Regions from separate parts of the Homo sapiens genome. Here region 2 is linked to region 1. The links come from fine-mapping of genetic effects on gene expression. A gene starts in region 1. The other region holds a variant in brackets. All regions are shown on one strand. Distances are between the middles of the regions. Region 1 holds the start of CACNA1D (calcium voltage-gated channel subunit alpha1 D). Region 2 overlaps CACNA1D (calcium voltage-gated channel subunit alpha1 D).

What was found. PIP is the estimated chance that this variant, and not a neighbour inherited with it, causes the effect.
Region 2: its variant is fine-mapped to the expression of CACNA1D in whole blood (TOPMed, PIP above 0.99).

Annotation. Positions count from the first base shown.
Region 1 is chr3:53,489,992-53,498,366 of GRCh38, forward strand. CACNA1D (calcium voltage-gated channel subunit alpha1 D) reads left to right here and starts at 4,620. Exons shown (of 48, transcript NM_001128840.3): 1 at 4,620-5,242; 2 at 7,161-7,470. The coding sequence starts at 5,176. RefSeq lists enhancers at 4,069-4,568, 4,899-5,684, 5,685-6,469.
Region 2 is chr3:53,697,643-53,706,017 of GRCh38, forward strand. It overlaps CACNA1D (calcium voltage-gated channel subunit alpha1 D), which reads left to right. Exons shown (of 48, transcript NM_001128840.3): 9 at 4,999-5,168. Among named protein-coding and RNA genes, the nearest start is that of CHDH, 140 kb to the right of the region's middle. The variant A/G (reference allele first, on the strand shown) is at 4,097.

The sequences.
Region 1 (8,375 bases):
TAAGGAGGTGATCCTTGCTTAAGGACCCACACGGTGGTTGGAGAGACAGGATTTATAGCCAAGAAGCAATCACACAAGACACAAGAATGTATGTCATCAAAGGGGAAGCCAGGTGCTGCAGGCCTTTAGGGAAGGGGAGGTGGGGGTGGGGGCACACGAGTGTCCATAGCAGCAGTAGCAATCAGAGAAGTCTTCTGGAGGAGGCAGAGACTTGACCGAGGCTTTTTCAATGGAGAGGGGTTAGTGAGAGGTCAGCAAGTCAACAAGGTAGGGATTCCTGGTCAGCGAATAAACAGGAGCCAAAGCAGAGAGTCAGAAATGAGCACAGCATGTTCACAGTCTAATGAGACTGCTGACCACAGTTTAAAGTGAATGGTGCGAGATGATAAGGTTGAACGCTAGTCAGAGGAGTTTAGGTTGAATGTGGAAGGAAGGAGGAAGAAAACATTTTTTGGTCAGGGAAGTGACATGGTGTGTTTTGAACAAGATGGATTATTTGTGGGAGGAAAAATGGAGAATGGGCATCTTGTGCATGACCTGGGGTGTGAGATGGTGAGGTTCTGGACTGGGCCATCAGCAAGGTTTTTTGAAATGCAGTGCACGCAGGTAATCATGTCTGGCATGCCAGCTCAGTGCGTTCAAGTGGGAGTGCTTTATAAATAAGGTCATGGAGATTAAGACCCCACAATAGTGTGTTAGCAACATAATTGGGTTGTAGCACATGTAGCTGATTTAGAGCTGAAATCTTTTGTTTTAGCCTTTCCTCATGTCTTGTTGGCTCAGCTACTAAGTAATTGTGTGTGGTTTTGGGCGAGCTACTTAACTCCTCAGTGTCTTGGTTTTGTTGTCTGTAAAATGAGTTTTGTTTTTTTTTTTTTTTAGAGTTTTGCTCCGTTGCCCAAGCTGGAGTGCAGTGGCACAATCTCTGCTCACTGCAACCTCCACCTCCCAGGTTGAAGTGATTCTTCTGCCTCAGCCACCCACGTAGCTGGGACTTAAGGCGCACGCCACCATCCCCAGCTAATTTTTGTAATTTTAGTAGAGATGGGGTTTCACCATGTTGGCCAGGCTGGTCTCAAATTCATGGACTCAAGCCCGCCTTGGCCTTCCAAAGTGCTGGGATTATAGGCATGAGCCACTGAGCCTGGCCAAAATGAGGGTTTTATAGTACCTCGTAGGCTTGTTACGAGAATTAAATGAGTTAGTACATATAAAGTGCCTACCCTAGAACCTGGCACACAGGAAGCCTTTAAAAGATCTTATTATTTATTTATTCAGTAGTTTGCATTATCATGGGAATATAAATATTTAAATTACCCAATGGGCCAACGCATCTAGAGCTGTGCTGAATCAAGGCCCTCAAAAAAAAAAAATGCTTGCTGGAGACATCGCCAAGATGAGACTCATTCAGAAACTGGGATGGAATGTCAAAAACTCCAATTCAAGGCTGAGCAGTGGCTCATGCCCGTAATCCCAGCACGCTGGGAGGCTGAGGCAGAACTGCTTGAAGCCAGGGCTTGCAGCTTACAGTGAACTATGATCACACCACTGCACTCCAATCTGGGCAACATAGTGAGACCCTGTTTCTAAAAATAATTATTTAAAAAAAAAACCCCAAACCCTCCTGCAATACCATAAACTTGTTAAGATCTAACGCACAAAACCTGGAGACCGAAACCACAATTTAATCATGTCACTTTTGAGCTAAAACAACTTCACTGGCTCTCACTGCCAAGAAATTGAATCTGGTCTTCTTAGCCAGCCAGCCTTCCTCCACAGATTTGGGTTGGCCTTTCCAGCCTCCTCCTCCTCTAGCCCAGGGGGTCTTTGCCTCAGCCACACTGTGCTCCTGCTCATTTTTAAACACACCCACCTTGCACTTCAGTCTCCCCTGTGCCTTTGCTCTTACCCCCAAAGCTCATTCCTCATACATCATTTATGCCCTGTAAAAGTAGTCACCTGTTTTTAATAGACTTTATTTTTTTTAAGAGCAGTTTTAGGTTTACAGAAAAATTTTGCAGCAAGGACAGAATTCCCATATATTCTCTCCCCCAACAGTTTCTCCTATTAACATCTTGCATTAGTGAGCTACACTATATACACAGTTATAACACTGGTACACCCCAGTGTTATAATTGATGAACCAATATTGTGGTACTACTATTAACAAAAGTCTATAGTTTGCATTAGGGTTTATGCTTTGTGGTGTACAGTCCAACGGGTTTTTGACAAACGCATAATGTCCTACGTCCATCATGGCAGTATCATAAAGAATAGCTTCACTGCCCTAGAATTCCCTGTATGCCACCTATTCATCCCTCTTTCTCCCGGTCAGTTTTTAAGAATCAGTTCAAATGCCCTCTCTTCTGTGAAAACATCTCAGTTCCCTCAGTTACAATTAATCTGTCTGATGCTTGTATAGCGCTTTTTCATACTTGTTATAGCTGCTATGTTTGCATGGTATGAAAGAAGTATACACGGCCGGGCGCGCGGTGGCTCACGGCTGTAATCCCAGCACTTTGGGAGGCCGAGGCAGGTGTATCACCTGAGGTCAGGAGTTTGAGACCAGCCTGGCCAACACGGTGAAACCCCGTCTCTACTAAAAATACAAAAATTACCTGAGGGTGGTGGCGCGCGCCTGTAGTCCCACCTATTCAGGAGGCTGAGGCAGGAGAATCTCTCTTGAACTCAACAGGCAGAGGTTACAGTGAGCTGAAACTGCATCACTGCATTCCAGCCTGGACAACAGAGTGAGCAAGACTCCGTCTCAAAAAAAAAAAAAGTATACAAACTTTTCTTCTGTCATTAGGTTGTCCTTGAGGAAGGAACTGTGCCATAGATTTGTCCTGACATCTAGACCAGACCCTTATTCTTAACCGGTGCCTTATGAATGCTGGCTGCACTGAACTGAACAATGAGCAAATATGGTTCGGCTCAGTCATCCACTAGATACAGTATTTTTCCCTCTAGACAGGAGCTGCTGTTTGCAAATCTCCCCCATTCCAAATCTGAGCCAGCAAAGGTATCATAAAACAAACTTGCTCAGGGAATTTTGTAGAAAAGGCCTCAAGAGGCAAGGCTTTAGACCAGGAGTTCTGAAAGTGACATGTGTACTTGTGAATTTCATACATGCTCCTTGGATGGGCTAGTTTCTTTGGAGGGAACCGTCTTCTATTCCCTTCAGATTTTGGATCAGAAGCAGCCATAGGAGAGGTGGCCCAGGCCAGCTTTATATTGTTACTAGACCGTAGGGCGATTTCTCGCCTCTCCAGTCTCCAAAAACAAAGCACAAAAAAGGACAAGAGCCTGGTTGTTTTCATCCTCACGGACCAGACACCCCCTCAGGAAGGCCTCTGGAGAGTCTTCTGTCTGGTCCCCAGTCTCTCTGCCCAGGTGCCCCCCAACAATTGAGGATGACTAGTGTGTTCTCTTTGGGTAAGGAGCACCTTCCCATAAACACTTATTTTTCTTAATTCACGCTGAGCTTTTACTTTATTTTCGCTTTAAAGTCACTGTTCTGAAACGTTCTAAAACGCCGTAGGAACATGCAGATAGGAACAAAAGCAAATAAATCGAATCCTGTGAAGTAACAAAGCAGACGCCCTTCTCCTAACAGGCAGCACAAAGCTAAATGAAAAATATCAGTCATCCACTAGATAAAGTATTTTCCCCTTTAGACAGGAGCTGCCGTTTGCAAATCTCCCCCACCCTAAATCCAAGCCAGCGAAGGTATCAAAAAATAAACTACTCCCTTCAGCTCCCAGACTGGAGGCAACAGTTTCAGCAGCACCGTCTATTTCCTTGAACAACACGAGCGGTTTGAAAGACCTTGGCTTTGACTTCCCTGTACCTGCCTCCAAACACACGTGGGGGCGGGGTGGGGTGGGGGGAGATATTGCCCCCCATCCCCGTTGCCTTCCGCGACGCCAGGCCAGGCGCAGGGCAGGGGAGAAGATGGGGGGCGCCCTGGATTCGCGGTTCCAGCTGCAGGCAGTTACCTGGGGTAGTGAGTGCTCTCTACAGACCCGGGCTACCCCAACCCCCCCGATTCCAGAAAGGGCCGGAGAAAAGCAGGGGGCGCCTGCCCCGCTCCGGAGCAGCCAGGGAGCCCGGCCGAGCCTTGACGAGGATGAGCTCGGAGACCGCAGCAGCTACCGCCCGCTAGCACCTGAGCTCCCAGGGGGCGGGGCCTCCTCCAGGTGTGCGCAGAGGAGGCCGGCGCGGAGTCGGGGCCGGCGCGGGAGCCCGAGCTGTCCCCCAGCCCAGAAATGCGCGGGGAGGAGCGGTTCATCCGCACCCCAGCGCCGCGGGAGACACTGGCGCCGCCTGCCTCCTCCGGGTCCCGGGGGGAGAGCGCACCGTGCGGCGCGGAGGGGGTTAACCGGGCAGCCCGCCGCTGGAGCGCGCTTAACCCTTTGGAGCCCGCAGGTCAGCCGGGCCAGGCTGGGGTGGCGGCACCCCGAGTCCCACGCGACGGCCACCCCGAGCGCGCAAGTGGTGCCGGGCAGAACCGCGCGCCGGGCTGCAGACCCGCCGGGGCGCGGCGCGGCGCGGGCCGTGGGCGGCTCGGGGCGGGCGGAGGGCGGGGGACGGCGGCGGGCGCGCAGCGTCGCCAGGGCGAAGCCGGCGTGCGGCGCGGCGCGGCGGGCGCGGAGCGAGCGGGCGGGCGAGCGCCTCCGTCCCCGGATGTGAGCTCCGGCTGCCCGCGGTCCCGAGCCAGCGGCGGCGCGGGCGGCGGCGGCGGGCACCGGGCACCGCGGCGGGCGGGCAGACGGGCGGGCATGGGGGGAGCGCCGAGCGGCCCCGGCGGCCGGGCCGGCATCACCGCGGCGTCTCTCCGCTAGAGGAGGGGACAAGCCAGTTCTCCTTTGCAGCAAAAAATTACATGTATATATTATTAAGATAATATATACATTGGATTTTATTTTTTTAAAAAGTTTATTTTGCTCCATTTTTGAAAAAGAGAGAGCTTGGGTGGCGAGCGGTTTTTTTTTTAAATCAATTATCCTTATTTTCTGTTATTTGTCCCCGTCCCTCCCCACCCCCCTGCTGAAGCGAGAATAAGGGCAGGGACCGCGGCTCCTACCTCTTGGTGATCCCCTTCCCCATTCCGCCCCCGCCTCAACGCCCAGCACAGTGCCCTGCACACAGTAGTCGCTCAATAAATGTTCGTGGATGATGATGATGATGATGATGAAAAAAATGCAGCATCAACGGCAGCAGCAAGCGGACCACGCGAACGGTGAGCAGCCAGAGCCCGGGCACCCGCTGCCAAATCCGATCCTGTCATGGTCCTCCAGCCCCCTCCCCCTTCCCCGCGGCGCTGGATGGGTTGAGGGGGTTGGAGAGGGTGCTGCCAGCTCGGTGTCGTCTACACAGAGAGGGGACATGCGTGACAGCCACTCCGCGCTCCCCTCCAGGCCCTGAATGTCAGAGTTAATTCTGCATTTGTGGGGTGGGGGCGGCCGTGGAGTGTGTGGAGCGCGGTGCAGCCGGAGGGGCGGCGAGTCGGGGTGATTCGGGTTCAGTGTCCTCGGGCTCAACTTTCCTTCAACGCCCCCGAGCGATGGCAGGAGGGCCGCAAGTCTTCAGCCGGAGCCCCCTTGCCAGCCTCTTCTCGCCTTCCACTCCTCCCCCGCCCCCTCGTTGACTAGGAAGAAGGTCCCTGGTGGCATCCGGAAAATTCTAGGATTGCCCGGTTTCGCCCTCCGCGCCGGTGGGTGAAGCACACCCATCCCCTCGCGGGGGAGGCCCGGCCTCGGTATCGGGGAAAGGGGTTCGGGTGGAGCGTGCGTTCCCGCTCCCGTCGCCGGCTGTGCACACGTCGGTAACCTAGCAATGCCCGGGGAGCCGCTGCCGCTGTGGGGCTCCCCTCCCCAGCTCTGGCCCGGGCACCACGTGCAGCTTCCACGCCGGCCGGGGCTGGGTCGAGGGAGGATGGAGCAGCTCCTGGCCAGCCCTCCCCTTTGGAGACCGCCAGTGCCCCCCAACCCCTGTCGGCTGGAAGCCTTTCCGGGTGAGCGCTCCCCTAGGGAGAAGCTTGACATGACTCGACTCGTCCCCGCTCCGATTGCCCGCCGCTCGCCCGCTTTGCCCTCTTCTCAGGCTTTCAGACCCGTGCTTGCTTTGACTCTTTACTTAGCAATAATTGGCTTTGCAAACGCCCATCTCTCTACCTTGCTGTCACCTCTCTCACTTCTGCTTCAGTGAGGAGACTGTGGCGGAAGGCGGCAGGTGCCTGGGAGATCTGCCTGGGAGATGGCCTGACCCAAAGCTGGCGGGGGCTTCGCATAGGGAGCCTCCTTGAGTTTCTGCCTTGTGTGCACCTGGATACCAACCTACACGGAGATAATTCCCTCTTAGGCCTGGAGGCCCCTGGCATAATCCAGTCAGTCTATCCTAGGTGTAGGGGTGCAGGCTGACTGCCTTGTCTGTCTCTCTGGATGCTGGCTTGGCTGATGCTGCTGCAATTTAAAATGCAAAAAAGCCCTAAAGATGTTTTCTGTTTTCGGAAGCCTGTGGAGGAAATGAGTCCCAAGCATCATGAATTTTCATTTGCAGGAAGTGTCAGTGCATAATCTAGATATTTGTTATGGGGTTTTTGGTATTGCCTGGGTGCCTATGGAAGATTTTTTTTCGGTACTGAAAAAAATGCATTTGTGGCTGTGGAAAGATGTTGGAGTAACACTCTGAAAATGATTAAGACTATTGAATTATTGGTACTGCCTTTTTTTTTCCCCTTGGTGATGGTGGTAGTTATGTTAGAGAAAAGCTGTTGTATGTATCTGTTACTCATTAGAGATAGATGGGTTTTACAAATCAGAGATGCGGAGTAAATGTGGGAATGACCTCAGTTTTGTCAGAAGAAATGCACTAAAAGACCCTTTGTGAAGACATGATGTGAAGGAGTACTAACCCCACTGGGTGTGATGCAGCGGTGATCCTGTGTGATTGACACTGAGACCAGAGCTCGTGGACTTTTCTTGACTCTCCAGCTGACTAAAGCCCAGCTTGTGAAAAATAGCACATGAGATTCAAAATGGAAACATAGGAGTGAATGATTCCCCTGTTATTGATGGGAGACAACCTTTGATTTTTTTCTCCTACCCACTGGATCCTCATTTAAAAAAAAAAATCTTTGTTTTTCTCCTTCTCCCCAGAGGCAAACTATGCAAGAGGCACCAGACTTCCTCTTTCTGGTGAAGGACCAACTTCTCAGCCGAATAGCTCCAAGCAAACTGTCCTGTCTTGGCAAGCTGCAATCGATGCTGCTAGACAGGCCAAGGCTGCCCAAACTATGAGCACCTCTGCACCCCCACCTGTAGGATCTCTCTCCCAAAGAAAACGTCAGCAATACGCCAAGAGCAAAAAACAGGGTAACTCGTCCAACAGCCGACCTGCCCGCGCCCTTTTCTGTTTATCACTCAATAACCCCATCCGAAGAGCCTGCATTAGTATAGTGGAATGGAAGTATCCTTTTTTTGGGGGAAGTCTTTCTCATTTTCTCTTTTACCATCTGTTTTTTAAAAGGATTTGCTTTCTGAAGTGACACAAAGCTGTAGCAGTCTGGAATGCGAGTAACAGAAGTTGTATATAAGGGGTTTCATTGTATATACCTTCCTGTCTCTTCGGGTTGCAGAGGGGTGGCTGTACGGGTATATTTAGCCCACTGTCTGGATGTGTGTATAGTAGTAGTAGTAGGGGGAGGGAGTGACAGCCTGAAACTTCACAGGGGCAGATAATTAAAATGTGAAACCAACCTTTGGTTATTGGACATTAGATGGTTAGTTTTAAATTCAGTGTTGTCTTTGGGCAATAGCATGCATTGAACCTATTGCAAACAAGGTATACAGATTAGAAAAAAAGACTGTATAAGACTCTGTTTGAAGGGAATACATTTTTGACCTTTAGTAGAATCTTCTCATTCTGATGTTTGAAATTTGCTTCTGCAACTACAATTAATGCTAAGGTTGCTTCTAGTCTGACATTTGGTGATTCTAATTATTCAGGTAGCTGCAGATATGAGCACATGCTTCCTAGGGAGAGATTACTTTTGATTTTTTTTCTCTGATCAGTGCTATAACTTCCTGGAATTTCCTTTTGACAAGTTCCAAAGAAGCATTTGGAACGTGAGCATGAGGGAGCCAGTGAAGGGAGAGGCTCGTGTGTGCCTCTTCCTCCTGGGCCCTTATGAGTTATAGAACAGCCTTTTCAGTGGAGGAATTTGCAGTTGCTGCCTTTATAAAAAATTCTGTCTATGTCCTTGGACTGGAGGTACATTTCTGGGTGTCTCCTTTGTATTTTTAAAATTGAACTCCAAATGCCCCAGAATGGCTGTCATGTCCCAGATCTTGGAAAACGATTGTGCTTCAGCC
Region 2 (8,375 bases), 210 kb after region 1:
CCCAGTTCACCTAATATTAAATTTTACCTCATTTACTTTTTCATTTGTTATCTATCCATAAGACATGTGGACTGATTTTTAAAAATATTTTATAATTTATTACTGTCCTTAGTTATTTCAGTGCTCAAATTTCCTAAGATTTGGCTAGTAGGAGCTACTTCTCTAGCTCCTGTATCCTTATGACATATCTCCATAATGTGTTTTGGTTTGTTTTTGTTTTTTGAGCACTTCCTTATTTTCTTCATCTTGTACCTACCCTACCCTTGCCCTGGAATCACCCAGTTCTCCAAAGTCCCCTGGTTCCTTTTAATGGGGAATGTTATTAGAGACCAAGATGTGGGTACCAGGTGTGCTTGTACCTGCCAGAGCATCTTTGCTTCTAAGTCCTTTCAACAGGCAGACCTAGGAAATATATGCATTTCCGTACACATATTCATACACATACTTACATTGATACATACACATACTCACATATCAGCCTCTTTTAAAAATCAGACATTGGAAATCAGACTTTAAAATAAACATCTTTTAGAAATCATCAGTTCACACCTATACCTTCAATTCCAGCCTGTCCCCAGAGGGTTCTTCTCTGTTCCGTGTTTCTGTGTCCCTCCTTCCACAGCGAGAACTCTGGCTCCCAGCAGCATTAGCACATGTACTCACTGGCTAAATCCTGTAATATGTCTAAGATAGTTTCAGAATGGTCTCATCCACATCACTGCAAAAAACAAAGCTACTGAAAAGAGTTCAGCATTTGTTTGTAGTTCATCCCTCACTCCAATCCTACCCAAGACTGAGAGTATGTCGTCAAATATTCATGAGCTATTTGAATTAGTTTTGTCTTTCTCCTTCAGTCTGGTTATGGTATTCATTTGAATTACAGATTTGTTTGTTTCAAATCACTTTCAGTTTAGGGGTATTTTCCCTTCATCTCATCCTTACTGACTTAATTTTTAAAAATTTAAGGTGAAGAACATTAACATGGTTCCCAAAGTCAAAACTATAGAAAAAGGTATACTTAAGAGTGTCACTCCAACCTTGATTCCTTTGGCCTAATTCATTCCCATCCCTTGTTTTCTGCTCTTTCTTTTAGATACACCTGAGAGAAATATGCTCCTTTTATTTCCCAGTTTTTCGTGTGTAAAGGGTAGCACACTTTATTGCTTTTTTTTTTTTTTTCATCCAGGCACTTCTTATTTATCTTTTGATCAGACACACCATAACCAAAATTCTGGTTTGGAACAAGAAGACTCCTAGCATATAACAGTTGTTGGATTTTTAGTCACTTGCAAAAGTCTGTTGGTTTCTACCAATAGCTTTATTAAATAAGCTTTGTAAAACAATCTCTTAGTAATAGGATTCTTAGAATATGATGAATTCTTATGCAAAGTGGAGTAACTTTTTTCCCATCATTGCAAAGTTTGATAGAAGGTGCCTCGGACTTGAGGTGTGATTTTCAGGATCAGAGGGTCAGTTGTGATGGGAATGGGTTATTCTCAACTGAGCAGATAGTGTACAGGATTGGCAGTGGGTTTGCCAGCTCATTGCGATCACTCTGAGCCTTGGGACCCATGTGTCCTTCTATGTGTCTCCCAATCCTAACGGGTTTGTGGCAGCTTAGAGCCCATTCACAGCTAGTGCTAATTTTTCTCCCTTTGATAATTTGAGAAAGCTCTTCCATTTGCCTTTTGAATGTCTCTCTTATGTCTGGATTCAACAACTATTATACATTTGAACTTCACGTTGATACCACTCTTTGTGTTTTCAAAGCCTTACTGAATGTCTTGCTTAATTCCTGTGAAACAGCGGAACAGGTATTGTTGTGTCTGTTTGGAAGTGAGGAAACTGAAGCTCAGAACACAGCAGTGACAGAGCTAGGACTAGAAGCCAGGTCTTCAGACGAAGAGCCCAGAGTGGTGTAGGAGGGCCAAGGATTTATCTGGGTTTATCACAGGGACTCTACCTCCCTGCCCCCTTCCTCCATCCTGCCCTGTGGCCAACAGATTTCTACTGTATAAACCTCACCTCTGTCCACATCAATAAATAATACCTTCCTGCTAAATATTCAGCCATTCAGAACTGTCTAAAATCAGTTCAGAGGGTCTATATCAGCAGCTTTGTTATATGAGCTTTTGTGATAGTGACCATCATTGTGAGTGGGCCATAAACCAGGACTTGGCAGGGTTTTTTACTCCTAGGAATTTTAGTCAGAGTAGAGTTTTACTTATGCCTGCTTACCTGTGTCCCAGCAGTGGAAAATGTACAACAGTGATGCAGCTTGTTAGAAATGGGATTTTTATATTTGTAATGTTAAAAAGGCATAAAATATTACAAAAGAAAATTAGGAAGATAGTAAAAGAGTTACCCTGAGAAGCTTAAGGACGTTCATTTTATAATGTATGTAATTATACATTATAAAATGTATATAATTATATAATTTAAAAATAAAATATAATTATATAATTATAATACATTATAAAATGTATATAATGTATGTAATTATGCATTATAAAATGAATGTCCTTAAGCTTCTCAGGGTAACTCTTTTACTATCTTCATAATTTTTTTCCCAAGAACCCATATATGATATGGACCCAAAGTAAGAATACCTTGTTTGTATGTAACCATCTGAATTTAGTATTCTAAGTTCGGAATCAAAACATGCAAACAGATTTGTACTAGGATACTTTTCTGGTGAATAATAGAACTGAAGGTCCACTTTTCTTTGAGATGTATTTAAGAAAACAGATTATATAATTCATTTTCCTGCAGATACATGACATGCCAAGCCCTCTTACTGTTGCTCAGGGATGTGATTCTGGATTGAGTTGTGATTTTTTCAGAGTTCAGAGAATCATTTGGTGAATTTACCTAGAGCTGAGTTATGTATTTCCCATGTGTCAGGAAACCCCGGAGGCCTAGAAACCCCAAACCATTCTCAGGGTGTGGTACATGTGAATGGCGAGACACTGGAGTCCTTACTTCTTTGAGACAGCAGGTGTTCTTTGGGCTGGGAGGTCAGAGCACGTGTCTGGGCTCAGATCGGCTCCTGCTCACTCTCTAGATCCACAAAGCCTGGCCTCCTTCCTTATTCACAGGGGGTGGAGTGGAGACTGACAGCCCTAACAGGACCAAGGATAGGTTCCAGGGAGTCTGGAAAGTGGGGTGATTTAGAAGCTATGAGAGGGATCCTTTCTTTTTCTTTTCTTTTTTTTTTCCTTTCTTTCTTTCTTTTTTATTTTTATTTTTATTTTTTTTGAGATGGAGTCTTGCTCCGTTGCCCAGGCTGGAGTGCAATGGTGCAATCTCAGCCCGCCGCAACCTCTGTCTGAGTGGGATTCTTTCTAATTGTGGGCAGAGGGTGGCACTTGGTGAGGATTCCAGTTTCTTATCTGAAGTATTAGTGTCACTGGGTGTGCAAGCATCTGTTCAGCCCCTCGACAGCCTAGAGTTAAGAGACGGGTGTGAATATGGGGTTAGTTTTGTTGTTGTTGTTATTATTATTATTATTATTTTGGAGACAGCGTCTTGCTCTGTTGCCCAGGCTGGAATGCAGTGGCATGAACTTGGCTCACTGCAACCTCTGCCTCCCAGGTTCAAGCAATTCTCTTGCCTCAGCCTCCTGAGTAACTGGGACTGCACCACCATGCCCAGCTAATTCTTTTTATTTTAGTAGAGATGGGGTTTCACCATGTTGACCAGGCTGGTCTCAAACTCCTGACCTCATGATCCACCCACCTTGGCTTCCCAAAGTGCTGGGATTACAGGCGTGAGCCACCGTGCCTGGCTGGGGTTAGCTTTATGAAAGCAGGTCACTTCCCCATTCGTGGGTTGGGTTGGGTTGAGTTGGGTTGGGTTGGCTTATCGAGGTAGGACCCTGAAAGAGACATGCTGGCTTTGACTCGGAACAAAGGCAAGAAGGCAGACAGAAGTAACCTGTGTCAGAATCTCAAGGTCTGTGTGCAGAAACTGCATTGCTGTAACCTCACCTGCTTCCTTGGCAGCTTTTTACTAAGTCTCTAACTCACATATCTTGGCTCCTATAACAACTCACGGTTGGAGATGCAGATGGTTCCTCATATATAAAAATTGGGTA[A/G]TCGTCCACCTGACTCTCAGGCTTGCCTGAGTATGTGGGGTTTTGTATATATGCATAGTCAGAGGCTTGCACACATGGTGGAAAGTAGCATAAACACCCCACAATTGGGAACATTTACCTGTCTGCCAGATCTTTTCCAGGGCAGGTGTTCCTATAAATGGGCAGAAAATCATATGCCTCTTCCCCTCCTGCAGGGAAGACTTTTGGGGAAGACCATGACAAGTAGCAGGGGTTAAGAAAAACAGTAATGCTTCATCAGTGCTCGAGTTCCCATCTGGGAAGGGAGAACTGGGTTGTGGAGGGGGTGGGGACTGCCCTGACTCCATGCACTGCTCTGGCCCGAACCTGCAGGTGATGGGTAGAGGAGCCTAGTGTGGGCACCAGCAAGGACTGCTGCCTGCTCAGAGCTCTTGGTTTGGACAAAAGGGGTAGCACACAATATTAATGCAAAGTTTGTCCAAAAGCATTGAAGAAGTTCTAAACTTGGTACTCTTTGACCACAGCTTGGCCCATTTGGGTCCCTCCTCTTTGAGGAGGCTCTGGGGAAAGTGGGGCGTCTCTGAGTTCAGGCCCCTTGTTGGGGGGTGTCAGAGGCCTGCCATGACAGCACATGGTGTTTTGGGCCTAGGCCCCTTGAGATCGCTGTCATCGAGGGGAGTTCATTTTCTAAGAAATGATGCATGTGTGTTGGTGTGGGCTCTGCGACTCTGACCCCCATAGTCTTGCTTTGGAAGACACTGTCTTCTGTCCTGTCCAAGTGTGTGGCTCCATTGCTGTGCTCATGTGACTATACTCAGTGCTGTGTGTCCTGCCCACAAGACTGTTGTGCAGTAGGGCAGTGGCTCAGGATGCAGGTCCCCAAGGATGTCCTGATATGTGCTTGTCCTCTTTGCCTCCTTCAGAGAATTCTCAAAGGAAAGAGAGAAGGCAAAAGCACGGGGAGATTTCCAGAAGCTCCGGGAGAAGCAGCAGCTGGAGGAGGATCTAAAGGGCTACTTGGATTGGATCACCCAAGCTGAGGACATCGATCCGGAGAATGAGGAAGAAGGAGGAGAGGAAGGCAAACGAAATAGTATGTAGCGCCTTTCCTGCCCCTGGCTAGACAGACCCAGTGTGCGGTTCAGACGCCTAGCAGTAGGCCTTCCTCGACTCTGACCCAGGCTGTGAGTGGGACAGCCTCCTCCCAGCCATCTGGTCCCTTCTGCCTGCACACATCACGGAGAGAACAGGTGCATTGGTGCTGACTCTGGATTTCTGCCTGAGGTTTGGGGTTTAGAGTTGTATTTGGTAAGGTGGCTTTATAGCCAAGGAAGGTCAAACGGACCCACTGTTGGCCTGGGAAATTCAGTAAGCGCATTTCTGTGCGGGCACAGGGGTGATGAGACACATATTCTTGTACCACAGGAGAAGAAGCTGTGGTTTCCCTCACCTCAGAGTGAACAGTGTTATTGGACAAGAATTTGAAGTGCAGGGTTCCTCTTGACTCTTACTCTTAGGCCACCTGACATGGCTCCTACATGTGCTATTCATATGAAGCCATATGCTTAGCCCATCAGGGGCTGGGAGGAAACCGGCTCACCATTCTAGGCAGGTGTTAAGGGGCACGTGAGTCAGTGACAGCTGCTTTGCTGTCACCCATCGACACCCCACACTGTGACACTAAGCACCCTAGAGCACCTTCTGCAGGAGGCAAGGCCTGAGAACTCAGTCCATCACTGACATTAATTGCCATTGTCAACCACGGTGTCTCTTTCACTGCATACTTTTCCCACAGATGCGCTCTTATTCTCTCTGGGGCCCTTTGTGCCTCGGGTCAGAGTGGAAACTGGAATCCAGCAATGCATTTGACTGAGATGTCTGTGACTTGCTTCAAATCTAGAAGAGTTGGATAGGAAGGACCAAGAACGTACTTCAAGTGCACATGTCCATTGAGAGGCCTGGGGACCCGAGGCCGGCCCTACGTTGTAGAAGATGGCCGAGCAAGTCCCTGCTTGAGCAGAGCGCCTTGGATGTTTTGCTCTCAGCAAGGCCTGTTGCTGGGTACAGGGGAAACCCAGAGCTGGAGAGGATGTGGAGTGCTGCCTCCTAGGGAGAGACAGGCCTGTCACACTAAATGCAGCCCTGGGGAGCAGAGCTGCAGGGCACACATAGAGGGCAGGCACCGCCGACGAGGGATCGAGGACAGGGCTGGAGGGAGCATTTGGCCTGGGCCCTGAAGGATGGATGGATTGCAGGTGTGACCATTCAGTGTCAGAAGAAGCACCCTGACCCAGGGGACTAGCGTGAGGGAGGCGTGGAGGTGGACAAAGGCCAGGTTTCAGGGAGGAAGCAGTGGGCCCTTCAGCTGGAGCACAGAGGGTATGAAGGTCGGGGTGAGCTGCCATAGGAAGGGTGGGTGAGGTGCAATTGTGCCTCTTCTGGAGGTTGTGGAGTGTGTAAGTGGGGGCTGAGAGACCCCTGGTGGAGAGGCTTCTTGACTGAGAGGGCCCTTACCTTTCTTCAAGCCTGGGCTCTGTGCCTCCATGGGGAGGGAGTGTGTTCCGTGATCTCAGATGCCCTGGCTGGTGCAAACCAGTGTGCTGACTGGGAGTGGGCAGGGTCAGGCCTCTCTTCTCTCCCTCCCTGCTTCTTGCCAGGCTCAGGAAGGGGCCAGGACTTTAGCACCTGAGGATCAGAAGACTGAGGGAGGGTTTCTAGAGCTAACTGTTTGCTGAATGCAAGTTCAGAGTTTATAAATAGACATTCATGTGAGTCTCAGACTCAGCGATGTGCCTATGAAGTGATCAGATGTAAGAGTGTCTGCCTGTCCTCTGCACAGCTCTCCCCTTGGCAGTTGAGCCAACGTGAACCCCATGGCTTTCGTGGAGCTTCTGCACCTGCAGTATGGCAACAGGCCATGTAGGTGCAGCTTGGAGATGCCTGCACCGCTCTTTTCCCCTTCACTTGCAAACTGTAACTCAGATGCTGACCTGCCCCATCTCCCCTAAACCCAACATGTTATTTGTAAACGAGAGGAGGTATGGCCCCTTTTTCTCAGCAGAGTGTCTTTCTTTGCTAGTTTAGCTGTGTCCCCCAGGGAGCTGAGTGAGGCCTTCTTACAGGCCAGTGGCCTTTCCTCTGTTTATTTCTCCTCCTCTAGAAGTAGACAAGGTTTCGTGTTCTAGTGTTGCTAACATTAGTCGTGGTAGAGTTGTTTATAGGGCCTATGATTTGAGGATTAAGGGTTTTCATTGGATTTAAGGTGATATCTTGAGGGTTAACCATTTTATCTCAGCCCAGCATTTCCTATGACCTATCACTGTAAAAACCTGATGATGACAGAAATCAATGACTCTGCCTTTCAGAGAACTTGCCATGAGGGGAAGATGGAGAAGGAGTGGCTTAGTGTGAGAAGCTGATCCCATTGTTAAGGCCCAGCACTCTGCTGTGTGAGCCCAGGAGGGCGCGATGATTCTGGCTGGTGGGAGTGGGCAGGCTGGGGCGATGTGAGGAAGGCTCCGTGGGAGGAGCAGCCCTGGGCGGCAGAGGTTGGGGGTGGGGGCTTTTTCAAGCTGGGGAAATGGCACAAACAAGGTGTGCGAAGTGACAAATATTCAGGGCCCTTAAGTGCATTGCTCAGTAATATAATCTAGGAAAGAAACAAAACCTGTTTAAAAGCCTTGTAGATCTTCAGAATTCACTCTCACTGGGGCTCCCAAGCCCATAAAGCTGCAATGTGTCTTGGGAACATCAGCAGTATTGTTTCTGCTATGCACCGTGATGTGTGACTCAAAATGATTAACTAGCTTAACGTTTGATCCAGAATAGCAAATATTTCTGTGGTGCGCCCTTGTTCTTTATGGAGCTCGTTTTGCCAGGTGCTGGGGTTTCCTGTGGAGTGAGGCTCACAGTGCTTCCCGAGTCATCAGATTTCCAGAGCCTTGCTGATGAGGGTTTTAAATAAAGACAGAAATCTTGGCTGTGGAGGCCATGATGGGATTTAGCTGACTTGAGAGCACCAAGTCTCCTCCTCCTCTGAGGAGAGAACCTCTCTGATCACAGACCTCAGCAGCCCAGACCCTCTGGAGGAGACAGCACTGTTGAGGTTTCCCTGGGGCCTCCTGTGGCTGCCAGCCATTTTCTTCCTGTCACAGCCAGAAAACCACACAAGGAGAGGGTTTCAGTGAGGCCCACATGGTCCTCCTCACCAAATAAACAGTCCTGGATTCACCACATGCACATGCCAGGTCTGGGGCTGTCTCTGTGCATCTGATTAGCAGGCAGTAGAAATGTGGGTGTT